Linked DNA regions of Homo sapiens. The protein of the gene in region 2 interacts with the protein of the main gene of each other region in a pairwise test. Each region holds a gene or a part of one and is shown on either strand. Other genes may lie near its edges.

What was found.
Region 1: the proteins of PATZ1 (region 2) and SMYD1 interact in binary tests that used the Homo sapiens proteins (3 or more experiments, as listed by UniProt).
Region 3: the proteins of PATZ1 (region 2) and RFX6 interact in binary tests that used the Homo sapiens proteins (3 or more experiments, as listed by UniProt).
Region 4: the proteins of PATZ1 (region 2) and KLF1 interact in binary tests that used the Homo sapiens proteins (3 or more experiments, as listed by UniProt).

What each region holds. Positions count from the first base shown.
Region 1 is NC_000002.12:88,070,825-88,077,824, forward strand, and holds part of SMYD1 (histone-lysine N-methyltransferase SMYD1), read left to right. Parts: intron 1-7,000. UniProt on the Homo sapiens protein: Methylates histone H3 at 'Lys-4' (H3K4me), seems able to perform both mono-, di-, and trimethylation. Acts as a transcriptional repressor. Essential for cardiomyocyte differentiation and cardiac morphogenesis.
Region 2 is NC_000022.11:31,329,332-31,336,362, reverse strand, and holds part of PATZ1 (POZ-, AT hook-, and zinc finger-containing protein 1 isoform long C), read left to right. Parts: intron 1-499; coding exon 500-671; intron 672-946; exon of another isoform or gene 947-1,014; intron 1,015-7,031. UniProt on the Homo sapiens protein: Transcriptional regulator that plays a role in many biological processes such as embryogenesis, senescence, T-cell development or neurogenesis. Interacts with the TP53 protein to control genes that are important in proliferation and in the DNA-damage response.
Region 3 is NC_000006.12:116,915,215-116,922,245, forward strand, and holds part of RFX6 (DNA-binding protein RFX6), read left to right. Parts: intron 1-793; coding exon 794-871; intron 872-986; coding exon 987-1,100; intron 1,101-2,822; coding exon 2,823-2,872; intron 2,873-3,922; coding exon 3,923-4,082; intron 4,083-5,095; coding exon 5,096-5,240; intron 5,241-6,827; coding exon 6,828-6,937; intron 6,938-7,031. UniProt on the Homo sapiens protein: Transcription factor required to direct islet cell differentiation during endocrine pancreas development. Specifically required for the differentiation of 4 of the 5 islet cell types and for the production of insulin.
Region 4 is NC_000019.10:12,884,171-12,891,986, reverse strand, and holds KLF1 (Krueppel-like factor 1), read left to right. Parts: upstream 1-4,785; 5' UTR 4,786-4,846; coding exon 4,847-4,933; intron 4,934-5,844; coding exon 5,845-6,670; intron 6,671-6,926; coding exon 6,927-7,102; 3' UTR 7,103-7,565; downstream 7,566-7,816. Other genes in the region: GCDH (glutaryl-CoA dehydrogenase, mitochondrial isoform a precursor), read right to left, coding at 13-156, 465-500, 592-682. UniProt on the Homo sapiens protein: Transcription regulator of erythrocyte development that probably serves as a general switch factor during erythropoiesis. Is a dual regulator of fetal-to-adult globin switching.

The DNA.
Region 1 (7,000 bases), on a different chromosome or scaffold from region 2:
CCCAGCTACTCAGAAGGCTGAGGTGAGAGAATCGCTTAAACCCGGGAGGCAGAGGTTGCAATGAGCCAAGATCATGCCACTGCACTCTAGCCTGGGTGACAGAGCAAGACTATTTCTCAAAAAAAAAAAAAAAAAAAAAAAAACAGTAATAGTTTTATCACAGTCACATATTTCTAAACAATGTATAATTTAGTTATGTTTTGTTTTTGATCTTTTAAACAAAGGTACAATATTATATGTGGTTTTATGCCACTTGTTTCTTTCAATGAAATGTTTATTATTCATCTGTATGGTTTTGTGAAACTAATAAAATGAATAAACTTTGTGTGTGTCTGTGTACCAAATTTATTTTTCCATTCTCCTGTGAATGGTTGCTATGAACATTTTTGCTCCTATCTCTTGGAAAGCAGATACATGAGGTGTGTATCACAGAAGTGTAATTACTAGGCCAGTAATATATGTGTTATTTGGCTTTAAAATATAATGCCATACTGTGAAATGCTGGTTTGTAAACCTGAATTGTGTCTTTGTTAGAATGGGCTTTGTTTAGCATTAACAGTAACAATCCAGGCCCTTAAATTATGGTCCTTAGTCTGGTTAGGATCTCTTCACCTTTGATGGTCGGAAAAGCAGGTACTCTTCTTGAAGGTAAGAGAGCAAGAATAAAGCTGGGAAAATTCTTTCAGGCCTAGCTATTATGTAGCACTTGGATTAAGTGCTAGGCATGACTAATCAATCAGGCACACCTTCCTCCTGAACTCCAACTTGGCCTCAGAATCCCTTCCAGCAGGTCCTCCAGGGGGCTACTACCAATCAATGAGAACTAGCATTTAAAAATGAAGTCTATTTGCCATCCTCTTAGGTGTTGTGGTTGGGGGCTGGAAGGGAGTGAAGTACCGTTACCAAGGGGTTGCCTTTTTTGGACACAGTATTTTATGGTAGTTGAGATACCGGGGGTGATGCACGAGTGGGTAAAAGTTGCTCTCTGCCCCTTTAACTCTCCACTCTGAGAGTTTCCAGTTCTCAGGGGGAAAGTGAGTGGGAGCTCTGTGGTACCTTAGCCCAAGTGATCCTCCTAGCTTCTACATAGCATGGGGTCAAACTGGGAATTCGCAATGCTGGGTTTTGTTGTTGTTGTTAAGGAAGAAAATAATAATTCTCTGCAATCTTAACATTTGGAAAAAAAAAAAAAACCCCAGCTATTAACATTCTGGTGTATATCCTCCTTGTTTTCTGATGCAAATACAATGCATATAAAATGTTTTCTTGATTCTGATGAGTTATAGGTGGGGTGGGGGTCCTGGAAGAAATACTACATTATTATTGTTATTATTTTTATTTTTTGAGATGAAATCTTGCTCTGTCAGCCAGGCTGGAGTGTAGTGGTGAGATCTCGGCTCACTGCAACCTCTGCCACCTGGGCTCAAGTGATTCTCCTGCCTCAGCCTCCCGAGTAGCTGGGACTACAGGTGCATGCCACCACACCCAGCTAATTTTTGTATTTTTAGTAGAGACAGGGTTTCACCCTGTTGCCCAGGCTGGTCTCGAACTCCCGGCCTCAAGTGATCTGCCGGCCTTGGCCTCCCAAAGTGCTAGGATTACAGGCGTGAGCCACTGCGCCTGGCAGAAACACTACATTAAATATATGCTTTGATTGTAAGACACAAAATGTCCCTAAATTCTGGATATTAAAATATGGGAAAAGAAGTTTATTTCAGAATGGAGGGAAAATGGGACATACATAATATGCTATATTTATCAATTCCAGAATACATATTTTAACTTCTCTGAAATCATAATGTATCCTAAAATCTATGGCTGATTATGGTTTAATTGGCAGATTTTTTTTGATTTCTTAGTAGTGAATAAAAATGGTGCATTTAATAATTTCAGGTTCAATGTAATTAAGTTGTATACACTTTTTCTCTCAAAAAAGTTGGATTATTTTGTAACCTGTTTTATTTACTTCATAATATGTTGTGAACAACTTTCAAACCATTAATATCCTTCTACACCATTTTAATGGCTGCATAGTATTCTTTTTGTTGACTTGTATATTAATTTAATTAGATGCCATATATTAGTTTTTATTTTCATTTTAGATTTTGGGGGTACATGTGCAGGTTTGCTACATGGGCATATTGTGTGATGCTGAGGTTTGGGCTTCTAATAATCTGCTTGCCCAGGTAGTGAACATGGTACCCTATAGGTAGCTTTTCAATTCTTCACCCTCTCCCTCCCTCTCCCCTTTTGGAATCTCCAGTGTTTATTGTTCACATTTTTGTGTCTATACATACCCAATGTTTATCTCCCACTTCAAAATGAAAACATGTTATTTGGTTTTCTGTTTCTGCATTAATTTGCTTAGGAGAATGGCCTCCAGTTGCACCCATATTGCTGCAAAGGACGTGATTTTGTTCTTTTTTAACAGCTGTGTAGTATTACAGGGTATATATGCACCAGGTTTTCTTTATACAATCCACCATTGATGGGCACCTGGGTTGTTTCCATGTCCTTGCTACTGTGGATAGTGCTGTGATAAACATATGAGTGCAGGTGTGTTTTTGGTAGAATAATTTATTTTCCTTCAGGTAGATATTCAGTAATGGGATTTCTGGGTCGAATGGTAATTCTAGTTTTAGTTTTTTGAGAACTCTCCAGGCTGCTTTCTACAAGGGCTGAACTAATTTGTAGATGCTATGTTTTGGAGATCAAGGGTGTGCTCTTCTTTTTCCTAGTAGATCTTCCCATATATCTCTGATTATGTATTAAAGACAAATTCCTACAAGTATAAATTTTGAATTCAAAATACGTTTTTAAGGCTTTTGATATAGATTTCCAAATTACCTCATCAAAGGAGATCATACATTTTTCTACTAGCAGCACAGGGGTTGTCTCCTCATCCCAATACTGGCCAACACAGAAAACTATTTCACTTTTTCATGTTTGTCAACTTAATCTGTTAAAACTTTTTTTAGTATTGTTTTAACTTGAATTTTTTATTATTAGAGAAGTGAAAGTTTTTTAACATTTGTTCTTTTATGAATTGTTGTTTTCTTTTGATGCCCTCAATTTTTAAGTATATGCATAACTCATTTGTTTATTACTCCTTTATGTCTAGTTCTCCCCTCTATTACCTAGCTCGATGCACATAACAGATGCTCAATAAATACTTGTGGAAAGAATCAGGGAGGGAAGGAAAGAGAGAGAAAGAGAGAGGGAAAGAAGATGGGGTTTCACTATGTTGCCAAGGCTGGTCTCAAACTACTGACCTCAAGAGATTTGCCTGCCTCAGCCTCCAAAAGTGCTGGGATTACAGGCGTGAGCCCCTAGGCACCTGGCCTTTAGTTCCCTTTGCTGCTGTCACAAACTACTGTAACTTCAATGGCTGAAAACAACACAAGTTTATTATCTTATAGTTCTGGAGGTTAGAAGTCTAAAACAGGCTGACACTTCTGTTTCTTTGCTATCTCCATCTACTTGAGGCTGCCCACATTCCTTGGCTCATGGCCCCCTTCCTGAATCTTTAAAGCCAGCAGTGTAACATCTTGTTCCCTGCTGACCTCCTGCCTCCTCTTATAAGGACTTGCAATTACATTAGGCCCACCTAGGAAATTTGGGATACTGTCCTTGTCTCAAGGTCTTTAACTTAATCACTCATGCAAAGTTCCTCTGCCATGTAATGTAATCTATTTATAAGTTCTGGGGATTAAGACATTGACAATTTTTGGGGGGCTATTATTCAGTCTACCCCAACGAAAAAGAATTTTCTAGATTGATCCAATTCATCACAAAATATGTTAAGAAGGAGCAAGGACAGTTAGTGGATTTTTTTTTAAAAGTTCTTTAAATAAAAACTTGAGCAGTCTCTAAATTATTCTGGTTACAAAGTTGAAAGTGACCCGGAGATTATGTATATATAGTGTGTATATAGGGAAAAAGATAGTGGGGAACATGAGAAAAAGTTGAGTATTTGTAAATAAATTACTGTCAACCAGGCTTTTTTTGAAAATGGAACCAGTTATGAGCTTTCTTAGGTGCGGCAGAGCAGGTGGGGTTAGTCAGTGTAATTCTGTGTGAGCATGTGGGAATGGCAGGATCAGCCCTGGCAGACACACAAACACACATGTGGCCTTTAATCTGATAACAGCTGGTGGTTGGTTATTGGGGGATAAATGATGCTATAAATGGAAATAATTTAATAAAAGGATTAGAGAAATTCCGGAACAATTAGTTCAGAAAATGAGTAAGTGCTAAACTATTCAAGTGACAGCCTTAAATGTTTGCATTGGATGTTGAGAATAACCACAGTCGACTTAGAATTCTGCTTTTCATTTGGCACTTTTAGCTGCAGAGGCAAGACATGTCGACATGTTACACAACCTGTTGTGAGCTGTATTGCTAAATATTGCTCAATAATTCTTAAATCCAGAAGTCTGAGAATGATTGCCTTTTAAAGATGGATTAGATCAAATGGCAGGTTGTCCCCATAATGATGCTATCTTTACCCACTCGCATCCCAGGATGTGTTCTGAACATGAATTGAGGGGGGTGCTTCAGCTAGGCCATGGAAATGTATACAGGTCTTAGTAGGGTGTGTGAGCTGTGGCAGAGAAAATCTTGAGAATTGATGTTTTAATAAAAAAAGGGATGTTAAAAATAAATTGACAATCTCCAGGCTTGATCCAAGGAAACAGTACCTTTTAATTCTTTTTTTTTTTTTTTTTTTTTGAGATAGGGTCTCACTCTGTTGGTCAAGCTGGAGTGTCATGGCACAATCATGGCTCATTGCAGCCTCTACCTGCTGGGCCCAAGCCATCCTCCCACCTCAGTCTCTGGAGTAGCTGGGACTACAGGTGCCTGCCACCATGGCTGGCTACTTTTTATTTTTGTTTTTTGTAGAGGCAGTGGTCTCACTATTTTGCCCAAGCTGGTCTCAAACTCCTGGGCTCAAGTGATCCTCCTGCCTCAGCCTCCCAAAGTTCTGGGATTACAGGTGTAAGCCACTACCCCAGCCCCCACTGACTTCTTATGTCAAGGTATTTAATAGTCAGTGCAAACATGAATCTCATGATCTCATCCAACGGCTAACTCTGTCTCCTATATGTACACCCCCACACCGACACATTTGCCTATCAGTGCCTCTTTCTGGAAGACCTCAACCTTCTCTGAGTACAAACTCAGCCTATCTCTCGAGGTCAGAACAATGCCTCCTCATCTCGTAGGTGATGCCTTTCTAGATTGCCTCTCCTACCTCAGTTGAAGTAGTCTCTCTTCCTCGAAACTTACAGCAAGTTACCATGCTTGTGGAATGTGGGTCCTGCCTTGTTTATATGTGTTTATGTCCCATCCCAGCCTGGGGACTGCTTGAAGGCAAAGTCGGTATTTCCTTTATCTTTTTTGTTTTTGAGACAGAGTCTCGCTCTGTCGCCCAGGCTGGAGTGCAGTGGCGTGATTTCGGCTCACCGCAAGCTCCGCCTCCTGGGTTCACGCGATTCTCCTGCCTCAGCTTCCCGAGTAGCTGGGACTACAGGCGCCCGCCACCACGCCCAGCTAATTGTTTTTTGTTTGTTTGTTTTTAGTAGAGACGGGGTTTCGCCGTGTTGGCCAGGATGTTCTCGATCTTCTGACTTTGTGATCCGCCTGCCTCGGCCTCCCAAAGTGCTGGGATTACAGACGTGAGCCACCGCGCCCCGCCTTCCTTTATCTTTTAAGGCCCTCTATTACCTAGCTCAATGCACATAACAGATTCTCAATAAATACTTGCAGAATGAAGCAGGGAGGGAAGGAAAGACAGAGGGAAAGAAGAAAAGAAGAAGGAATGAGAAAAAGAATTTAAAATATTGTGAAGTTATCTGGGTACTTGAGGGATGGGATGTTCTTTAAGACACCTACCCCAGGCTGGGCACAGCAGGCTTACGCCTGTAATCCCAGCATTTTGGGAAGCTGAGGCAGGCGGATCGCTTGAGCTCAAGAGTTTGAGACCAGCCTGGGCAACATAATGAAATTCCATCTCTACAAAAAAATAAAAATAAAAACAAGCCAAGCGTGGTGGCATGTGCCTGTAGTCCCAGCTACTTGGGAGGCTAAGGTGGGAGGGTCGCTTAGGCCCAGGAGTTTGAGGCTGCAATAAGCAGTGATTATGCCATTGCATTCCAGCCTGGAGGACAGAGAAAGACCCTGTCTCAAAAAAAAAAAAAAAAAGACACTTCCCTCTAATTTTTGAGGAGAGACCTTCTGGCAGGCTGGGAGTTTGTAAGCATCCCTGAAAGACAGAACGGTTGAACTGTTGGTCCTGTCCTCTCTGGCTGAGTTTTTGGAGGGCTTGCCCACCATGCAGGCACCTTGTCTTTGCATTTATCTGTCCGTGAGCAACTATTTCCATACAAGGAGCTGAGCAGCAGCTGCCCTTCCAGCCCTCTTCACTCTGACAGATCACAGAGTCCAGCAGGGCTGCAGAGCAGAGTGAGAGGGGACCAGCTGCTGGAGCAGGGCACATTCAAGGCTGCAGGCCAAGCAGGTGGGCCTTGTAGCTGCATCCGCCCGCCTTCTGTGCTGGGAGCAGCGTCCGGCGTCAGGGACCCTTAAGAGAATAATATCCCTGTGAGGATAATGATCTCGGCCAGTCTAAAGGGTTGCTGTGAAGATTTTTAAAAAAACGAATCACTAAAAACATCTCTTTGAAATGGCAAAGTGCTGTGTAAGTGGGAGTTGATACCTTCTTGTGTGAATAGGAATGTAAGACTCGGGAGAAACGAGACTTGCTGAAGGTCACCCAGCTAAGACTGCCTGGGACAAATGCTCTTTCTCGGAATCCAAAAAGTGGCTTTAGGACTTCATGTTATTTGGACACTCTCCTGCACTAGGGGCAGTAAGGCAGGGGAGGGGTGGGCATTTCTTTTTTTTTTTTTTTTTTTGAGACGGAGTCTCACATTGTCACCCAGGCTAGAGTGCCGTGGCGTGATCTCGGCTCACTGCAAGCTCCGCCTCCCAGGTTCAA
Region 2 (7,031 bases):
GGCCAAGACTAATGTCACTTTTGAATAAAATGAACAAATATAATTCTTTGTATAAAACTAGGGGAAACCCAGGGATACAGAACAGGAAGGCTGGTTTATATGCCAATAACTCATCTGTAAATTCATGTAAATGTAATTCTGTGCATTATAGCTAATGCACCTAAAGTCAATTCTTAATGTCTAAGGATGAGCAAATGTGTAACTCTTCATTGTGTAGAGGGGTATAGAGCTTAGCTTGCCATGTCCTGGGTACATTTCCAGTAGTCATTTAGTTAGTACCAGTGATTCCCACTCAAGTGTCCCGTAAGGAGGTACCATGGGAAATAAGAGCAGCCTCTTGGCATTCTGGGTAGGGAGCCTGAGCCAAACTCTAAAGCTGTCTTTATAAAGGGAGGTCATGTGATGGCCAGAAATTGCCTTTGCTTCATGGTGCACTTGGTGGGGAGTCAGGTGTGGGGTGCTGGGTTTCACATCATCCCATTTTCTTTTCTGCCTTCAGACCTGCAATGCTTCTTTTGCCACCCGAGACCGTCTGCGCTCCCACCTGGCCTGTCATGAAGACAAGGTGCCCTGCCAGGTGTGTGGGAAGTACTTGCGGGCAGCATACATGGCAGACCACCTGAAGAAGCACAGCGAGGGGCCCAGCAACTTCTGCAGTATCTGTAACCGAGGTAATCTGCCCACTGTTTCCTCACTTCCAGAGGATGGGCCTGAGCGTGTATGGGAGGCCTAGGGGTGTCTCAATCACCCTGCCTCAGACTCCACTCTTTGCACAGCCACCCCCTACTTCCCACTGAATGATAAACACCTTCATCACCCAACTAGCTATTTGCTACCTCTTCCTTCCCAAGAAGCTTGGGGTGCTTAGAATGGGAAGTCCCAGGAGACCAGCAGGTCAAAACAGAAGGAGAGAGGTTCTTCCCAAGCTTGGGCCCATAACTCTCACCTGCTACTCAGATGGCAGGATGGATGCATTTTGCAGACACCACTGAACCACTGAGGTTGGTGGGGGAGTTAGTAGGTCCCAAAGTGAGAGAAAAAGAGGTTGGTCCGGCTTGAGAGCTTTTGCTGGTTGATTCACTGGCATATGAAATTCAGCAGCCAGGGAAGGAGGTTGAGTCTGGAGATAAACAAGGAGCAGACACTTTGTAGCACAAGTAGTCAGAAGAGAGCCCAAACTCAGGTAGATTGTGGCCTTGAGAGAGGAAAGTGGAAGGTGCTCTGAGCAGGGCAGCATGCTTGAGGACAAGGTGGGCCTAAGTAGTGTCTAACTCTGTGGCAGTGGTGTTGTGTTGGGTGAAGTCAAGCCTGTCCCCAAGGTTCTGCCGGGTCTAGTTGGCTGTTGGAAGTGCTAGATGTTTGTGTTTTGCAAGCACAGCATCAGTGGAGGCTTGCACTGTGTCTGTGCTAAAGGAGGTTGGAGCAGCTATCTGTGAACGTGAGGATGCTTCTGCATGGTGTGCTTTGCTTTGGCCAGTGGGGAGCACTGGGATGTCCTTATCTCCTGGGGCATTCTTGCTTGTCCCAATGCTTCCGAAAGCCTGCTTAGTGGGTGCAGCACTGAACCAGGAGTCAAGAGACCCAGGGTTTAGTCCCAGCCTCTCACTAGGTGGCCTCGAGTTCTCCCATTCCCTCTCTAAGCTTGAGTTTCTTCATCTCTCAAATGGGGTTAAGAATAGCCCCCTTTCCCACCTCACAGGGCTGTTATGAGGATCCCAGGAGACAAGGTAGGTGAAAGGAGCCGCACACTTGGGAGACTCTATCCTTGCACTTTGTAACAATGTTGGGAAAGACATGCTTGTTGACACTCTGGGTTGGACCAGGCACAACACTCCTGCAGGCCTTGGCGGAATCGTTGGGTGCCTGTGCTGTGTTCATGTGCCGAGGTCCACGGTGGAAGGAGATTGCTGAGTAGCTGGGTGTTCTTGGTGTCCTGGAACTGGGTCCCTCCTTGCAGCTTCATACCTGGGGTTTGTACCACCAGGACACCTGCTGTGAAAGCAGGGAAGTAGTAGTGAAGGTCTCTTAAGCTGTCTGTTCTGTTTTCTGACATGTCATTAGAGCCCATTGCTGACAGGAGCTTCCTCCAGGTTGCAAGCGGTGGGCTTGCGCATGCAGGGAGAGTTATCAGGCTGTGGCTGACTGTCTTGACTGGGGCTTCCCCAGCCCTAGAAATAATGTCGTTTCTTGTCTTGCTTCATCCTAACCTGGCTTCCTGACAGCTCCCCCGGATAACTCAAAACCTGCTGTAACAAGCTGTTAGCAGGCATTTTGTCAAGTTTTCAATATGGAAGTTCCCAGTCTGAGAACTGGGGTCAGAGACCAGAGGTTGAAAACTGCTGAGTGGAGAAGGGTGCTCATGATAAAACTCAGAAAGCCCAGACCAGATGGTGGAGTAGGGCAGAAACTGGACAGGAGACCCAGGGCTACAGCCCTTGAAGCCCAGCTCAGGAGGAGAGAAAAACTGAGAGCAGCAGGGACAGTGGGAAAGTTGGCCCAGTAAGGAAGCAGCTGATGTGGCAAAGCCAACAACTATTGTACATCAGGATTTATTTTCCAAGGGCTAGTAAAGAGAACTTGGGCAACAGCCATAAGCTACATGACCGGAATGGAGAATCCAGAAGAGTAAACCAGAGTCTACTTTTTCTCAGAAAAGCCAAGACTGGGTCTGGATCACAGGCCAAACATCTCTGGGTTCCAGAGCCAGAGCGGGAAGTCCCTTTCCTGCAAGAAGACTAAAGAAGGTGCTGGTCCAACCCATGCTGGGTACTCAGAAAGAAGAGAAAACAATTGCAGTTTTTATCAGAAGAGAAGGAGCAGGATTCTACTCCTGGACTCATTCCTTGGGCAGAAATAGGAAGAGACAAAAAAAAAAAAAAAAAAAAAGGAAGAGGATAAAGTTCTTTCTGAGCACCAAAAACATTGAGACATTGGAATCAAAATGCAGAGAGCTCTGTGTCCTCCTTTGCCCTGCTGCCACCAAGCCTGTACCTACAGGAGGGGTTGCACGAATAAACGAATGTTCTTATCTCTGCATGTGTTCAAACAAAGGCTGAATGTCAGAACAGTTAAGATTGAATCAGGTGAACTTCCAGGTGCCCTCAGATCCTTCAATCCCAACAATTCTTAAATAGTTGACTTAAGTATCTACCTATAGATCTGTCTTTTTCAATTTTTGCCACAAAAATGACTCCTGGCTGTGAAGAATGGCAAAGAGGAAAGGCAGCCTGACTCCTGCAGCCTCACACGTGAGTCAGATGCAAGTTGAAGAGACAGATGACTCTGGCTTTGTCATACAGACATATCAGGATGTGTATGATACTATTTGTACAGGAAGATCATTTGCAGTGGAGGGAGTATTATGGCTAGAAAAGCTTGTTCCCACATTTTTGAGTTGAGGAAATCAGTTGAGTTGAACAGTGGAAAAGGGAGAAGGCCCTGGCTGATCACCATGATTTTCTTCCTTTAAAGTTTCTGTAGCAGGATCTTTGTATATATGCCTATGTGCTGGTATGGTGAAGAGGAACAGATTATCAGGAATCCGCCTTTGACAGAGACATTTGAATGCAAACATCATTGCTTGAAAGGTAGAGGAAGCCTTCTCCCCAGTCAGAGGTAAGCACACAAGTGGATGGATGCAGGGAACCTGCTGTTCCCCTGGACTCACATCAAGCTATGTAGGCCCACTCCAACACAGTGCAGTTGGGAATGGCCCCTTCAGGGTTTGGACAAGGAGAAAGCAGTCCCCAACCCCTGCATTGATGTGGAACCTGCCAAAGGATGATTTGCTTCTGGAGTGCCAAGTGCAGGCACACCAGGCAAGAAAATGCAACTGAGGAGCAGTGGCCTTTTGCTAATAAGACCATCGTCTCTGGAGTGAAAGGGCCGGTGGCTTGTTGGTTGTAGTGGCAGTCATATGTGTGCTCAGCATCTCCATTGCGTGGATGGCTGGATCAAGCTGCCTCTTTGGATCTTGGTTAATCAGTGGTGAATGGGTGGGTAAGTTTAGAATTCCGGCTAAATATGTCTGGCTTCAAAGACGTATTCTGCTCAGAAGCTCAGCTTCTGTTTCATCCTAACACTTGGCTGCTGAGTTGCTCTGTGTTTAAATTCTAGGCTTTAAGTGGCAGCTGTGGATCCACTCCTACCACCCCGCCATGTGGTTTTGCTATAGATAGTACAGTCTGCAGCTGGGGTAAAGTCAAGAGGACTCAGCCACGTGTTTCTAAGACTGTTTTTCAGGAAAACTCAGCAAGACAGTTTCGCTGTTGTTGCCCAGACTGGAGTGCAATGGCGCGATCTCAGCTCATCACAACCTCCACCTCCTTGGTTCAAGCGATTCTCCTTCCTCAGCCTCCCTAGTTAGCTGGGATTACAGGCATGCACCACCACGCCCGGCTAATTTTGTATTTTTAGTAGAGACAGGGTTTCTCCATGTTGGTCAGGCTGGTCCGGAACTCCCAACCTCAGGTGATCTGCCTGCCTCGGCCTCCCAAAGTGCATGAGCCACTGCGCCCAGCCAAACTCAGCAAGTTTTTATTGAGCATCTGCTGTGTTCTCTTGGTATAGCTCTCCCAGTAAGGAGTAAACATAATAATTCCTGGTGCTCTCCCGCTCCTTTCTGTCCCCTTTTGATTGCAGTGGACCTGCTCTGGTTCATCACAGGGAGAGAGCTTCATGCTATTTTAGAGACCCCACAAGGGATTAAAAAACTAAGGAAAGGCCGGGCACGGTGGCTCACGCCTGTAATCCCAGCACTTTGGGAGGCCGAGGCGGGTGGATCGCGAAGTCAGGAGATCCGAGACCATCCTGGCTAACATGGTGAAACCCCGTCTCTACTAAAAATACAAAAAAAATTAGCCAGGTATGGTGGCGGGCGCCTGTAGTCCCAGCTACCAGGGAGGCTGAGGCAGGAGAATGGCATGAACCCTGGAGGCGGAGCTTGCAGTGAGCCGAGATGGTGCCACTGCACTCCAGCCTGAGCGAGAGTGAGACTCTGTCTCAAAAAAAAAAAAAAAGGAAAAAATTACCTTCTAAAGTGGTATCATCATATTATCAGAAAGTTCTAATATCTTGTACTGATTGGTGGGAGCCAATGTCTCCTGGTTCTGCTTTGTTTTAGGGGACTCTACAGTACCACCCCAAGGGGCAGGGCTAACAGCCTCTTTCCCATTAGCCTTGTCTCCTCACTCCTGACTACAGCCTCCCTCTTAGGGATGTCTACATGGGACCCTCTTACACCAATCTATACCCATGATCAGCCTCAGGCAGACCACTGCGGTCATAGCACAGGACAACTTGCTCTACCAGGCAGGGCAGGACACCAGCACCTGGTCTAGACAGATCTTTGAAGTAGCTGTATTGGGAAAGGAAGGAAAATTGGCCCAATCCCACATTTCCCTTCAGAACCACTAACTGCTGCTGTCAGAGGAGAACTTGTTAAATAAAGTTCCCACAGGCCAGCCCTGTTTTTCCAGCAGCTTCCATTCTAACATACCATTATGGTCGAAAAATACATGAGTGTAAATGGTAATAATGAAACCTATTGTAAAAGTCCACTGGATATTTCTAGGGCTCAGGGCTAAGACACAGGAACCAATTAACCCATTTATGCTGGAGGTTACAAACTTTTTTGTGAAAAATCAGACTTTAATGATGATCTTGAGCAGTAGGATACAAATAATTCCTAAAAGGTTAGCGTCCCAATAATGGAACATGAGGCATAAGTGGGTTAAAGCATCTGCCCAGTAGCTAAGGGCCAAGTTCTGGTGGCACATGATCCTGGGGTTGGAGTCCAGGCTCTGCCACTCAGTAGCTGTACGTGTGACCAGGTTACTTAACCTCACCAAGCCTCTTTTTTTTTTGAGACGGAGTCTCGCTCTGTTGCCCAGGCTGGAGCGCAGTGGCATGATCTCAGCTTACAGGTGCCTGCTACCACGCCCAGCTAATTTTTTATATTTTTAGTAGAGACGGGGTTTCACTGTGTTAGCCAGGATGGTCTCGATCTCCTGACCTCGTGATCTGCCCACCTCAGCCTCCCTAACCTCACAAAGCCTCTTATTTCTTTATCTGTAAAATGGGTATAATAGTAATCTGTAGCACAAAGGGTGTTGGGCAAATTCTATAGAATAGTGCATGCGGTGTGCTGGGCCCTGGTGTGCCATCAGCACTTCCTAAAGGTGAACCTTTATTACAGTTCCAGCAGCATTCAAAATACCATGCCAATTCAGACTTTTTTAAAACAAATCTCATGCAGACATTACACAGTACTCTTCAGCCTCTGACCCTTTACCCTTTAGCAGTGGATCTCACTGTTATCCTGTGACTGTGTAATTTTGAAAGTGAATGGAAACACCTGATGATGAGTCAACCAGATCTGAAGTGGATTAAAGGGACACTGTCAGGGTGCTGGCACCCTAAGTGGGCCTTATACTAAAAAGCTTCAGTTCCTGCTAAAAGCACCTTCTGATCCTTGACTACAGTGGGGTTTGATGGCATACCTCCTTCCTGTGAAACCCAAGTCAAAATCCTTTTATCGGCCTGCCTGATTCTGTATCCTTGGACGCATGGCTGCTGTGGAAGTTGGCCCAAGATGTGTTCTTCCCAGCCTGAGATATCTCGTGGATCAGACTGACCGAAGCATCTGGGAGGTGGGCTGGAACAGTCCCAAGAAGGCCGGATTGTCCTCCCCCAAAATAAAGACAGAGATCATCCGTGTTTCTTCTCCTGTACGCGAACCTGGTGGATGCTCCAAAATCGAACCAAAACACTACCATGAATAAGAGATGACTGCACTCCTCTGACACAACTTCCTATTTTTGTCTTTGTTCTTCAAAAGGTCTAAACAGTTACTAAATCCTGTTATGCTGAAGGTGGGGAAGTTAGAAAAATAGAACATCTCCTGACAGGTAGAAGACGGGATCCTTGGAGGCGTTCCTTTGGGATTTCATTTTACCTCCATCTCGTTTGTTGTCCAGTTTCCTTTTACGAGGATTAAGCAGGCATCCTGCTGGCTAGAATCCTGTGGCTTC
Region 3 (7,031 bases), on a different chromosome or scaffold from region 2:
TGCAAATATCCATGGTAACTTGAAAAGAGAGACTTTTCATAATAGACATTCAATGTTTGAAACTTTTTTTTGGAAAATGCATCATTTGATATTATTACTAACTCTGGATAATGTTTAGTAAGGTCTTACTGGGTGCCAGGCACTGTTCCATATGTGTCACATCCTATTTTATTTGATTTTCTTAACACCATGTAAGTAATATGTTATTACTACCTACTTAAAAAGCTTGGGAGCTCAGAGACAAAGCCACTTTTGCAGTCATACCTGGTAAGTAGTGCAGTGAAGGTGGGCACCCAAGTTGAGCTGACTCCAGAGACAAAATTTGAAACCATTATGCCATACTGCTCCAAGCATCCACTTCATAAAACTGTGTGAAGATTTGATGTATTTTACTACTTTATGTTTATTTATCCAAATCTTTGTTACTACTTTTACTACTTTATGTTTATTTACCCAAAAATTAATTTTAAAAAATTTAAATTTAAATTAAAAATTAAATTTTAAAATTTAATATTTTAGTAGGCATAAAACTAGGATGTTACTTTGGTCCATAGTACTCTGAAAAATTACCTTTTTCATATTATACTGTAGTTGTCCATTTGTTTGCTTTTCTCCCTTCACAAGGCAGTAAGATCCTTGAAATAAGAATTTTGCCTTAATTTTTGAGTCCTCAACATTGAGCATACTGCTTGGTACGTAATAGGATCTTTTAAAAAATCTGTGTTGAACAAATTAACAAGAAAAGGCAGTGTTAAAAGGATGCTTTGGTTAAGCTTTTTCTTCCTTGAAATAGGTTGATACGCTCATAATGATGTACAAAACTCACTGCCAGTGTATCCTGGACAATGCAATTAATGGAAACTTTGAAGAGGTAAGAATGACAAAGAATGCTTTATTTGACCCTATTATATATACTTTCATGTTCTGTTCTTAATGAGTTCATGTTAAAGAAAAAAATCTTAACATACTTTTTACTCTGCAACTAGATCCAGCATTTTTTATTACACTTTTGGCAAGGAATGCCTGACCATCTCCTTCCCCTGCTCGAAAATCCTGTTATCATTGATATTTTCTGTGTTTGTGACTCAATTCTTTATAAGGTAAGCACTTTGGGATGTCTTAAACATGAGCCATTTATTTCTTTACGTAGCATTCTATCTAAATTCTTGCAATATATTTTCAGTAAATATGTTATTTATGGCTGGATATACACTGTCTTTTTTTTTGATGAGAAAGCAAGCAATTTAATAGTGCACGTTTAATAGTGTATGTGTTTTAATTGAAGTTTACATTAAGTAAAACAAACTCAATTTCTTTTTACAGCTAATAATGAGTCTATATGTGACACACTTATTAATATGTGAAAACTTAGTTAAATTTTATTAACTCTCTAAGGTGTTTTCAGATTAAAATAACACAGTGGATTTTTTTTCACAATGCCAGTGTTTTGGCAGAAAGCAGAATTAGGCACCCTTATGAGATTAATAACTTGAAAATCTCAAAAACCTCTAACTTTAATGCATTAATGTCTAATTCTCTTCTCAAACCAAATCAGAGTTCCTAAGTGTCTGCAGAAGGATCTCGAAGACATCCTAAATAAGGACAAACTGATTGTCCTTCTAGGCAAACATTTAATGGAAGACAGAAAGAGGCTAATTCTTGACAGTCTCTTCCCTGGTGGCTACAAGTTCTAAGCTGATGGATAAAACTATATTGCAATGTGGGTACTTTAAAGTGAGTTTGCCTACATTTGCTTTCTAACTTACCATAAGGAAAAACAAAAGCTTTCCTTTTAAAAAATAATCTGAGTTGGCAAGAAAACCCAAGCTGGACGCTGTTAAACATTTAGGAAATAAAATCCTTCTAAGTTAGTTGCCACTATCAGATTCTCAGCTTTGCAGAAAAGTAAAGCAAAAGCTATTTATAGATAAACTAAGTCCAGAAGCCCCTAAGCAGACCAAGAAGTAATGAGACAACTTGAATAAGAGAGTGCATATTTTTATCCTCTGTCCAGTACTTCCTCATCACAGGATAGGAGAAAGGAGGAATAAAGTACAATATATTTTCTGCCTTTAGTTCAAGTTCAAGTTGAAAAAATTTCAGAGGAGAGTAAGGATTGTCTTGTTTTTTTTTTTTTTTCTGGATTGAATATGAATGCCATTATTTAGAGAAAAACAGTTTAATTTGCATTAATTGTTTGTAATGCTTAACACTTGACAAGGCTCCCAAAAGGGGAGGGGAGGCAGCTCCGTGAGTGAGTATAAGAAAAGACCTGGGGCTCATGCACACAAATTTCCATCAGACCAAAGCTTTTTGGACTGTCATTCAGTTTGTCCAAGAAATACTTTTAAAACACACTTCTCCCTTTAAGTGATCTGTTTTTTTTAGTCTAGTATAAACATCCTGACTTTAAATATCTTTAAATGAACCTGGTTTCTCCTCCTCATGGTGGACCCAGAGAGGCACAGTGAGCTCTGTAAGTAGAACGGTGTAAGATGAGCTTCTACAAAAATCTTCCTCCCACCTCTAGAAAGTGGTCAGCTTTTCATCATAAAACGGTATATGATTACCATGGACCAATCCATTGGTAATTAACATACTGAGCATGTACATATACAGTGCTATCTCTTGTTTTTATTGTCATACACACTCACACACAACTCATACATACATTCATTTTGGAGATAAAATTATAACTTTGAGAAAGGAGTTAACATGTTATTCTCTAGGAAGCTAGGAATAAAAAGTAGTTGACCAATAATATGTCTTTCTATAGAAATACTAAGTAAAGATTTGTATTAACCTCTTTTGCTATGATTAAGGTTCTTACAGATGTACTCATTCCTGCAACAATGCAAGAAATGCCTGAAAGGTATGTTCAGTTAATAAAACATGAGCATTCCTAGTATAGGATTTAACTTTATACATTATATTAGAAGAAAACATTAGGTAGTAATTTATTCATTTATCAAGAAGACTATTTTCTACTTTTGTCCCTTTGTATTTGCTGGAAGAGATGTGTCTTATAGCTGGGCCTCAATAAACAAAATGGGTGAAACAATCCTTCAATCCCTTTAATTTGAGAGCGGCTAAAGTGAAAAATAGATTTAAGCACTGTTGATCTTCGAGAAATTTTTCAATGGAAACTAGCTGGAGTATGATAAAAAAGATAATTAATGGAAAATAACCACAAGAATAAAAACTATAGGAGAAATTATTGTATTTTATTATTAACTTTTGTCTTAATTACAAAATCAGAAAGTGGCATGATGAAATTACTGCCTTCTTTTAACAAAGGAATAAAATCTCAAATAGTTTATTGAAACAATACCAGAAGATTTTTCAAAAAAAAAAAACCTTTTCAATATAAGAACAATAGAATTCTGAAAAAAAAAAGCCAACTTTTTCTCTGAAAACAAAATCTAATGAAATGATAAAATTTATTTTAGTATTTTGGGGGTACAAATTCATATAGGACTGGACATAGTTGGTGCTCCAAAAATAGATGTTGCTTGGTAAAACAAATTTTACTTTTTATTTACCTTTTCCTCCAGATTATTTCATCTATATGATAGTTGGTATTAGCCTGATCAATAATGTCTTTTAATTATCAATTGTAGTCTTTAAATATCTATTCTGTACTCTGAATTGGGTACTTGAAGTGGAGTTTGAAGAGCTTGAGTGTTTTGACCAAGATGATAACAAAACATCTCATGTACCCCATAAATATATACACCTCCTATGCACCCACAAACATTTTAAAAATATAGCATAAGAAAAGATGATAAATGGCAGATCTAGGCTGTCTGACTTCAAAAGTACTGCTTATGAAACCATAGAATAATAGTATACCTCAATTAAAATATGATTGTTTAATGCATTTTTTAACAATGAAGCATTTAACACATAGCCTTCTTTGTAGCTTATTAGCAGACATAAGAAATTTTGCTAAAAATTGGGAACAGTGGGTTGTTTCATCCTTGGAAAACTTGCCAGAAGCTCTAACTGACAAGAAAATACCTATTGTGCGAAGATTTGTATCTTCTCTGAAACGACAAACATCTTTCTTACATCTTGCCCAGGTATGTTGGTTGCTAAGTCGAGAGCATTTGAGTCACCATATAAAAAATGAATCTTCTGAGAAGGACAGATTGAGGAACTTTCATAGATTGAAGGGAGCTAAGTAGACAACAACTAAATGCAACGTGAGACCCAGAAGTGAATGCTATGATAGAAAAAGCACATTAGTGGGAAAGCTGGTGAAATTTGAATTATGTCTGTAGTTAATAGTATTGTACCAATGTTAATTTCATAATTTGGGTAATATACAATAGTTACAGAAGATGATAAGAAGCTGGATGGAGAGTATATGGAAATATTCTGCACTATCTTTGCAACTTCTCTGTGATTGGAAATTTAAAAAACTTGAATGCAATTAAACATTTATTTGCCATGTGAATCTAATTGGTACAAATTAAGGTTGTGAGAAGTAAGCCTGTGTGATACTTAATATTGTGAAACCACAAACTCAACACATTTTAAACTGCCGACTAATCATGGCTCTTTTAAATAGAGCAAAAGTAATTCATAAGTTAAGAATGATGCATTTGTATATTGTTAAAATATATTTCTCTTTCCCCAAAATGATTATCTGCTTTATGAAGGTTTCTTGCCTTCTAAATTTTAAAAGACAAGCTTGAGATGATTTCAGATAGGAAATGTAACATTTAAAAATTCTTATTTTGTGATCATGGACAAAGAGAATCCATTTATATTTTCTTTTTCTATTTTTTATTATACTTTAAGTTTTAGGGTACATGTGCACATCGTGCAGGTTTGTTACATATGTATACATGTGCCCTGTTGGTGTGTTGCACCCATTAACTCATCATTTACATTAGGTGTATCTCCTATAATTTTCAGACTTTTAACAGAGATGATCATGAGTCTCAGCTACTGCTTTTGTCTTTAAAATAAGAAAAAAGTTATTTATGATACTTTTATCTCAAGGAACTATTTTTCTGATAGCTAAAAATTTCTTCTAGATACATTAGAAATGATATAGTGTAGTGTCTTCTTTACTTTCTCTATGCAGATTGCCAGACCAGCTCTCTTTGACCAGCATGTCGTTAATTCTATGGTGTCTGATATTGAAAGGGTTGATTTGAACAGCATTGGCTCTCAAGCCCTTCTTACCATTTCAGGCAGCACAGACACTGAATCTGGTATCTACACTGAACGTAAGTCCATTCTCTTTGTTTAGAACAAGGTTTTCTAAGCTCAGAAAATTGACATCTTGAGCTGGGTAACTCTGTTGGAGGAGCCTGTCCAGTGTGCTGTAGGATGTTTAGCAGCATCCTTGACCTTTACCCATTAGATGACAGTAGCAGCCTCCCCCAAGCTGAGACAACCAAAAATGTTTCCCCACATTGTCAAAGGTGTTCTGGGCTGAAAAATCACATCTGATTGAAAAAAAACCTGGTTTATAAAAATATTTTTAATTAAAAAAATTTATCTTCTAATAAAAAATAGTTATAATTACTCACCATGGAAAAGATAGAAAATATTGAGGAAAATAAAAGTCATCTGTAATTTCATTACCTAGAAATAAATGAAATGGAAATAATCTGAAAATAATCAAATTGTTTTGAGTTTTGTAAGTTTTCTTTCAGTTTTACATTACATGTATAGAAATTTACATGTGTTTTATAGTCTTGTCATCCTGTGGTGTGTGATAAATATCAAAATGGTATCTCAGCACAATACTGCTTTTCAAAGCAGACTCTCTACTCAGGTTTGGACCATCTGAGAGAGCTTACCAAGCCAATATGCATGGCTAGACAACTAGGCTTGAATTTCAAGGGATAACAGCCACTATTTTTTCCTCCCTCTGTCTTTGAAAAGACAAAACCTGCAGCCTCCTATACACTGGAGCACAAACTATGGACTGCTCTCTGGGGCCCAATCTCAACTCCACTTTTTATTTCCTAACATAAAATAGGATTACCTTTTGAGATTCAGTAAACCTTAAAACCTTTAATAAAAGGATAGTCTTAAACTGCCCTTTTAAATATTACATGATAAAACGTTATTCAGGTAAATGGCTCAATTCTGCTGAGAAGAAATTAACTTTTACTAAAGATAAAAGATATTTTGGAAAGCAGGAAATCACCAAGCTTAGGTTCATTCATTCACTTTTAACTAATCTGTTCCGTTTAATGAAAACACTAGACTCAAAATGAATATTTAACTACATAAACAACTTAATCTTCCCTAGTATGTGAATACACATATAAGATTTAAACCTATATTTCAATATATACCAAGATATATACACTTATTAAAATTTCGGGCACACTTCAAGAGGCTGAGGTGGGAAGATTGCTTGATCCCAGGAGTTCAAGGCCAGCCTGGGCAACACAGCAAGACCTTGCTCTATAATTTTTTTTTTTTTTTAATTTAGGCAGGCTTGTTGGTGCGTGCCTGGAGTCCCAACTGCTTGGGAGGCTGAGGCAGGAGGGTCACTTGAGCCCAGGAGTTTGAGGCTGCAGTAAGCCATGATCACGTCATTGCACTCCAGCCTGGGCAACAAAGCAAGATCCTGTCTCTCTCTCTCTCACACACACACCATTGAAGAGTACAGTACTAAGGATTTTTTTGTTACTGTTTTCAAGATATGATATTAATTCTTTTCACACATTTATCTGTCTTTCCCTTTCATGCTATCAAAGTATTGATGATTCCAAGTTTTAGGTTTTCTCTTGGATTCCAAGTAGAGTACAATATTCTGTTTTCTTTTCTTTCTTTTTTTTTTTTTTCCTGGGTAGATGACTCTATCACTGTGTTCCAAGAACTGAAGGATCTCCTTAAGAAGAATGCCACTGTGGAGGCTTTTATTGAATGGTTGGATACTGTGGTAGAACAGAGAGTTATTAAGGTACTTTTTAATGACAGATTCAGAAAATAAGTTCCTTGTAAAGAGTAAATGCTAAACTGGCTATAATTTTTTGTCTGGGGGGAGAGGGGTGGAA
Region 4 (7,816 bases), on a different chromosome or scaffold from region 2:
CAGCCCGCCCACCTTCGTTGCGATTGGCCAACAGGATGCGAGGCATGAGTCTCTCCTGGCAGTAGGTGCGGAAGGTGTCCCTGATGAGGATCTCATCTGTGGTCAGCTGCTCCTCCAGCACCAGCGGGTCCTGCCAGTCAAACTCGGGACGCGAGGCTGGGAAGGGGAATTCGCCTCGGTCCAGTCCGCAAGATCACTGTGCCCTCCCTTCTCGGACCCTCATCAGCCCTACCCCCCAACACCCATGTCGCCCCCCGGCTAGTGCGAGCTGCAAGCGAGACTGATCAGGTGACTTTTCTCCGGCCCCGCAGGCACAGCGCACTCACTGCCTTAGTGCCTCTGACCCTGGCCACGACCCTGCCACCCCGCTCGGGCAGCTCTCGGATTCTGGGACAGAGTCCACCTGCGGCAGACAGACAGCTGAACAGGGGCAGCAGACACACGGTGCGACCAGAGGTCCTTACACTTAGCCAGTTGGCTCTGTGTTCTCCCGCCTTTCTCTGCAAGCACAGAACGGGAAAGTCACCCCGGAAAGTCCCTAAACCCCCAGTTCCTCCCTCCTTCCCTCCACACTCCCGACCCCACACTGACCGGTCTGCGCCGCCGACGAGACCCACGTGCGAAGGACGTGCAGGCCGGGTCCGCGGCTCAGCAGCCGCACGGAGACGCCTCTCAGGGCCATGCTCTCTCAGAGCGAGCGGAGCAACGACGGCGACCTACAGGAGCGGGGGTGTCAGAGCGGAGCTCCTCTCACCCACGGCTGGGGCTACCGCACCTTCCTTACCTGGTAGTACCTCCCGGTTCACTGCCGAGGCTACAGTGCAACTGACGCAGGCCTTTGACCTCAGCAAGAAGTGGGAGGAGCGGAGGCCGAGTGAGGCTTTTCATTGGTTCCTCCTAGAATCCGGCCCCCTCCGCAGCTCTGCCTTTTAAAAGGGCTAAGGTAGCCTTGCCTGTGGAAATCGGGGGGCCCAGACAGAGATAGGCTAGCCCCTTTAAGAAGCGGACGGGGTAGGGGCGGAAGACGAGTGCGGGAAACCGATTGGCCAGCTGGGTTTCTCCTCTTATTGGCCGTAGGAAAGGGCTCGGCCCACTCCTGGTTGGTCAGTTGCAGGGGGTGTGTGCGGAGGGAGTCAAGAATTAAACAAAGAAATTCTGGCGCGAGCACTAGGCGTCCTCCTGAACCCAGGAGGCCAGACTCGAGTTCTCTAATTGGGTGCTGGTTGTGGGGAAGACGAGCTCCAAGTGGGCGATCTTAGCAAACCTTTCTGCCAGTCTGTCCCAGGAAGCACATGTAGATACTTGTGACTCTGTGTGTGTGTGTGTGTGTGTGTGTGTGTGTCTGTGTCTGTGTATGTGTGTGTGTGTGTGAACTTGTGTGATTCTGTGAGTCTATGTGGTTGTTTTGTTTTGTTTTTGTTTTTTCTTTTTAGACAGGGTCTCGTTCTGTCGCTCAGGCTGGAGTGCAGTGGCGCGATCATAGCTCACTGCAGCTTCCACCTCCTGGGCGATCCTCCCACCTCAGCCTCCAAGTAGCTGGGACCACTGAAGCATGCCATCATGCCTGGCTAATTTTTTTTTTTTTTTTTTTTTTTTGAGACGGATTCTCACTCTGTTGCCCAGGCTGGAGTGCAGTAGCGCAATCTTGGCTCACTGCAACCTCTGCCTACTGGATTCAAGCAATTCTCCTGCCTCAGCCTCCTGAGTAGCTGGGATTACAGGTGTGAGCCACCATGCCTGGCCTTTTTTCTTATATTTAATAGAGACGGGTTTCACCATGTTGGCCAGGCTGGCCTCAAACTCCTGACCTCAAGTGATCCACCCACCTCGGCCTCCCAAAGTGCTGGGATTACAGGCGTGAGCCACCGCGCCCCGCCTGTTTTGTCTTTTTGTGTAGTGCATTTGTGGTGCACCCATTCTGATTGTGTATCTGTTGAGAAATGTGTGTGTCTTGATTCTCAGGACCTGTGATGCCATGTCCTTGCGTTTGTCTGTGTTTAACTGGGTGCATCCCCTACGGTTGGGCACTGGTAGCTATGCAACTGTGACTAAATAATTACTTTACATATTGTAAAAGTGACCGGTGGTGTGACTGTATAAAGTGTAGGTTTTGACTGGCTGGGGCGGCTCATGCCTGTCATCCCAGCACTTTGGGAGGCCAAGGAGGGTGGGTCACCTGAGGTCAGGACCAGCCTGGCCAACATGGGGAAACCCCATCTCTACTAAAAATACAAAAATTAGCCAGGCCTGCTTGTGGGTGCCTGTAATCCCAGCAACTCGGGAGGCTGAGGCAGGAGAATCACTTGAACCCAGGAGGCAGAGGTTGCAGTGAGCTGAGATCATGCCATTGCACTCCAGCCTGGGCAACAAGAGTGAAACTCTGTCTCAAAAAAAAAAAAAAAAAAAAAATTAGCGTGGCGTGGTAGCAGGCACCTGTAATCCCAGCTACTTGGGAGGCTGAGGCAGAGGAATCACTTGAGCCTAGGAGGTGGAGGTTGCAGTGAGCCAAAATCATGCCACTGCACTCCAGCCTGGGTGACAGAGAGAGACACTATCTAAAAAAAAAAAGTTCTGTGACAATGTATCTGACTCCCCATGTGTGTCTGCTCAATTACGGCTAAATTGTGTCAGTAGGATTGTATAACTGTGTGCCTGCCTGTGGATTATGAATTCTGTGTTTTAGAGATTGTTTGGCTATGACATTGTGTAACCAATATAGCATAGGGTTGTGTTTTAGTGCCTGGGAATTGTATGTCTGTGCATAGTCCATATACATAGACAGACACACAATTATATGTGCACGGATTATATGATCAGTGTGACTGAGGGAACAGGAACTCATGTCATTATGTAATTGCATGGTCCTGTGAGTAACTGTGTTTTTGTTTTTGTTTTTAGAGATGGGATCTCGCTATGTTGCCCAAGCTGGTCTTGAACTCCTGGGCTCGAGCATTCCTCCTACCTTGGCCTCCCAAAGTGCTGGGACTGCAGGCATGAGCCACTACTCACTGCTCCAAGCCTGTTTTGTTTTTGTTTTTTAGAGACAGAATCTCACTCTGTAGCCCAGGCTGGAGTGCAGTGGCATGATCTTGGCTCACTGCAACCTCTGCCTCCCAGGCTCAAGTGATTCTTGTGCCTCAGCCTCCCGGGTACCTGGGATTAGAGGTGTATGCCACCATCCCCGGCCTATTTTTATATTTTTAGTAGACAGGGTTTCACTGTGTTGGCCAGGTTTGTCTCGAACTCCTGGCCTCAGGTGATCTGCCTGCCTCGGCCTCCCAAAGTGCTGGGATTACTAGCGTGAGCTACTGCGCCTGGCCCCATGCCTCCAAGTTTCAACCAGTTCTCCAGCTCAGCCTCCCAAATAGCTGGGATTACAAGCATGTGCCACAATGCCCAGCTAATTTTTGTATTTTTAGCAGAGAGAGGGCTTCATCCTGTTGGCCAGTCTGGTCTCGAACTCCTGACCTCAAGTGATCTCCCCACCTTGGCTTCCCAAAGTGCTGGGGTTACAGGTGTGAACCACCGCACCTGGCCTTGTTTTTGTTTGTGTCACCCAGGTTGATCTGCCAGGAATAAAGATGGCCACCCAACTTTTTTTTTTTTCCAGCGACAGAGTCTTGCTTTCTGTGCCCCAGGCTGGACTGCAGTGGTGTGATTATAGTTCAGTGCAGTCCCGACCTCCTGGGCTCAGGCAATCCTCCCACCTCAGCCTCCTGAGTAGCTGGGACTATGGGCATGCACCACCACTCACAGCTTTTTGTTGGAGAGATAGGTTTTATGTTGCCCAGGCTGGTCTTGAAATCCTGGTGTCAAGTGATCCTCCTGCCTCAGTCTTCCAATGAGTGACTATGAGTTATGTGTCTGTAATACGTATCCATGTCCCCTTCCCAGGCTCCCAGGGCACCAGAGTGGAGGTTCCTGTTGTAGAAACTCAGATCCTCTCCTCATGTTGGGCAGAATCAAGGAGCAGCCAGGCCCAGAGCCAGGGCACTGGTCTCCTGCAGGTCAGGTACTGCCTGTGGCTTGATCCAACGGTCCTATCCCACCCAGGAGGAGAGAGGGTCACTTTTCCCTTGGCTGCCCCCATCGCACTAAAGCAGCTGGCACTGAACCAGCCTCCATGCAGTCCCATGCAGTGCCACCCAAGGGTCCCCAGTAGACAATGGTGGGCCAGTTGTCAGGGGCTTCCTCCTGCTGCAGGGCTGAGACCCTGGGAGGTCCCAACCCAGGCAAATTGAACGCCAGGCTAATTTGAAGACCCAACTCCCAGCCCTCCCCTTCACCGGAGGACAGAGCTCTAGCTGGCCTGGGCCCCCACCTGATAGCAGCCTCCAACGTCTGGGGTGTCTGATAATGCTTGGCGGGGAGCTCGTGCCAAGTCCCGCCATCAGCACGGTTGTTGCTGTTTACTGGGGAGGGGGAGGGCTGTGGAGCCTCAATCAGGGGGACAGGGGGTCCCACAGCTTCTTCCCAGAATACCCTTTCTGCCTTTTCCAGGAAAGTTAACTGAGGGAAGACCCCCAAGTCTCTCCTTCTTTGGAGACCCAATGTCTGTTTTTACCCAGCACCTGGACCCTCAAACCCTGAACCCCCCAACCCTTGATATTTGACTTGGCTTTGGACACAGGGTTAGTCTTTAACCCCAGCCCCAGACAGGCCAACGTGAAGTTTGTGCCCCAGAAACAGTGCCCCCCCGCCGCCTTGCCTTGCTTTGCCTTATCAGAGGCTGCAGCCAATCAGCTAAGGACAGAGAGGAGCCCTCGAAGGGGCTATCACAGCCTCAGAGTTCACGAGGCAGCCGAGGAAGAGGAGGCTTGAGGCCCAGGGTGGGCACCAGCCAGCCATGGCCACAGCCGAGACCGCCTTGCCCTCCATCAGCACACTGACCGCCCTGGGCCCCTTCCCGGACACACAGGATGACTTCCTCAAGGTGGGGCCTAGAAGGTGGGGTCTAGGTGGGCTGGCTGGAATCCAGGGCCACAGTCACAGATCTTGGGGTCCAGACCTGCATCTTGACCTGAAATCAAGAGACTTAACCAGGACTGAGGTACGCTCAGTCCAGGAGAGGAGATCTCAGCTTAGTCTGGCAGGGGGTGAGGAGGGTGGTCTAGGGGTTTGAGGTTCTAAGTGTGATCTATTTCGGTAATAGAAAACGAAGGTAGCCTGGGCAACATGGTGAAACCCTATCTCTACAAAAAATACCAAAAACATTAGGCCAGGCATGGGGGCGTGTGCCTGTAGTCCCAGGTACTCCGTAGGCTGATGCAGGAGGATCATTAGAGCCCAGGAGATTAAGGATACAGTGAGCTGCACCACTGCACTCCAGCCTGGGCAAAAGAGTAAGACCCTATCTCAAGAAAAAAAAAAAAAAAAAGGAACGAGATCTAGGCTCACAGACAATCTTCCAGATATCAGCGGGAAATGATGAGTGTGTCTGGGGGACATCCAAAATTTCGGAATTAATCTTGTTTTGGGAGACAGGGAAGGAGAGGGATGTTCTGGGGGAAAACTAAGTCAAGGCTGGCATCCTCTCCCCCGTCCCCTGCCAGTTTTCCATCTCCAGCAGCTCTGCTACCCCTTCCCCCATCCCCGAGTGTGGTTCCAGATAGTGGAAGTCTTATCTCCTGTCTCCAGCCAGACCTGATCGGTTTCTGTCCCTGGAGCTGGGGGGGGAGCGGGGAGAGGGGCGGTTAGAGGGGCAGTGTTGGGGAAGTGGGACAGACAGACAGGCAAACAAGACCCCTTTCCAAAGCCTCTGCGTCAGAGTGTCCAGCCCGCGATGTCCCTGGGCAGGGCACCCCAGTGTCCACCGAACCTCGAGCTGCCTGCTCCCTCCCGCAGTGGTGGCGCTCCGAAGAGGCGCAGGACATGGGCCCGGGTCCTCCTGACCCCACGGAGCCGCCCCTCCACGTGAAGTCTGAGGACCAGCCCGGGGAGGAAGAGGACGATGAGAGGGGCGCGGACGCCACCTGGGACCTGGATCTCCTCCTCACCAACTTCTCGGGCCCGGAGCCCGGTGGCGCGCCCCAGACCTGCGCTCTGGCGCCCAGCGAGGCCTCCGGGGCGCAATATCCGCCGCCGCCCGAGACTCTGGGCGCATATGCTGGCGGCCCGGGGCTGGTGGCTGGGCTTTTGGGTTCGGAGGATCACTCGGGTTGGGTGCGCCCTGCCCTGCGAGCCCGGGCTCCCGACGCCTTCGTGGGCCCAGCCCTGGCTCCAGCCCCGGCCCCCGAGCCCAAGGCGCTGGCGCTGCAACCGGTGTACCCGGGGCCCGGCGCCGGCTCCTCGGGTGGCTACTTCCCGCGGACCGGGCTTTCAGTGCCTGCGGCGTCGGGCGCCCCCTACGGGCTACTGTCCGGGTACCCCGCGATGTACCCGGCGCCTCAGTACCAAGGGCACTTCCAGCTCTTCCGCGGGCTCCAGGGACCCGCGCCCGGTCCCGCCACGTCCCCCTCCTTCCTGAGTTGTTTGGGACCCGGGACGGTGGGCACTGGACTCGGGGGGACTGCAGAGGATCCAGGTGTGATAGCCGAGACCGCGCCATCCAAGCGAGGCCGACGTTCGTGGGCGCGCAAGAGGCAGGCAGCGCACACGTGCGCGCACCCGGGTTGCGGCAAGAGCTACACCAAGAGCTCCCACCTGAAGGCGCATCTGCGCACGCACACAGGTGAGGGGGCGGGGCCCCGGACATGAGAAAGGGCGCGGCGCCCGCTGTAGTTACAGGGGAAGAAGGGTTGCAGAGGGCGGGACTTGGACTTGGCTGGCCTCTGAGAGTGAGTGCCTCCTTAAATTTTGTGCCCTAGGGGCCTCACTTTGTTCATCCTAGTCCCAGCCCAGGCTGAGTAAAGGGGTGTGGCCAGATGCAGGGGACCCGGGGACATGACTGGGCAGACAGTGGCGCTTATGGCTTCCTTGTCCCCTAGGGGAGAAGCCATACGCCTGCACGTGGGAAGGCTGCGGCTGGAGATTCGCGCGCTCGGACGAGCTGACCCGCCACTACCGGAAACACACGGGGCAGCGCCCCTTCCGCTGCCAGCTCTGCCCACGTGCTTTTTCGCGCTCTGACCACCTGGCCTTGCACATGAAGCGCCACCTTTGAGCCCTGCCCTGGCACTTGGACTCTCCTAGTGACTGGGGATGGGACAAGAAGCCTGTTTGGTGGTCTCTTCACACGGACGCGCGTGACACAATGCTGGGTGGTTTTCCCACGAATGGACCCTCTCCTGGACTCGCGTTCCCAAAGATCCACCCAAATATCAAACACGGACCCATAGACAGCCCTGGGGGAGCCTCTTACGGAAAATCCGACAAGCCTTCAGCCACAGGGAGCCACACAGAGATGTCCAAACTGTCGTGCAAACCCAGTGAGACAGACCGCCAAATAAACGGACTCAGTGGACACTCAGACCAGCTCCCAGATGGCCCTGGACAGCAGGAGAGGGTGTGGGATGAGGCTTCCCAGAGACCCTGGGTCTAGAAAGCGGCTCCTGAAGGTCCCTTATTGTGGCTGATATTAACTGTCAATGGTTATGGGTCCTATAAAAATGCCCCTCCCAGATAAAGCTTCAGCGTTGGCCTGAATTTTTGGGTTTTGGAGGCTGGAAGATGGCAGGAGGCTGTAAACCTAGAGGTCATATTAGAGGGCCTTACACACCCTCATCTCCTAAACTACAGTGACACCCCTCAACTCCAACAAGCCCCCTTGGGCACTGGAGGCCTTGCTGTCCTCTCTTTTCCCACCCAGTTCAGGCTACACTGTCCTTGTCTTCTGCCTTGAACCCTGCGGACATTGACAGCAAACATCTCCCTGGAT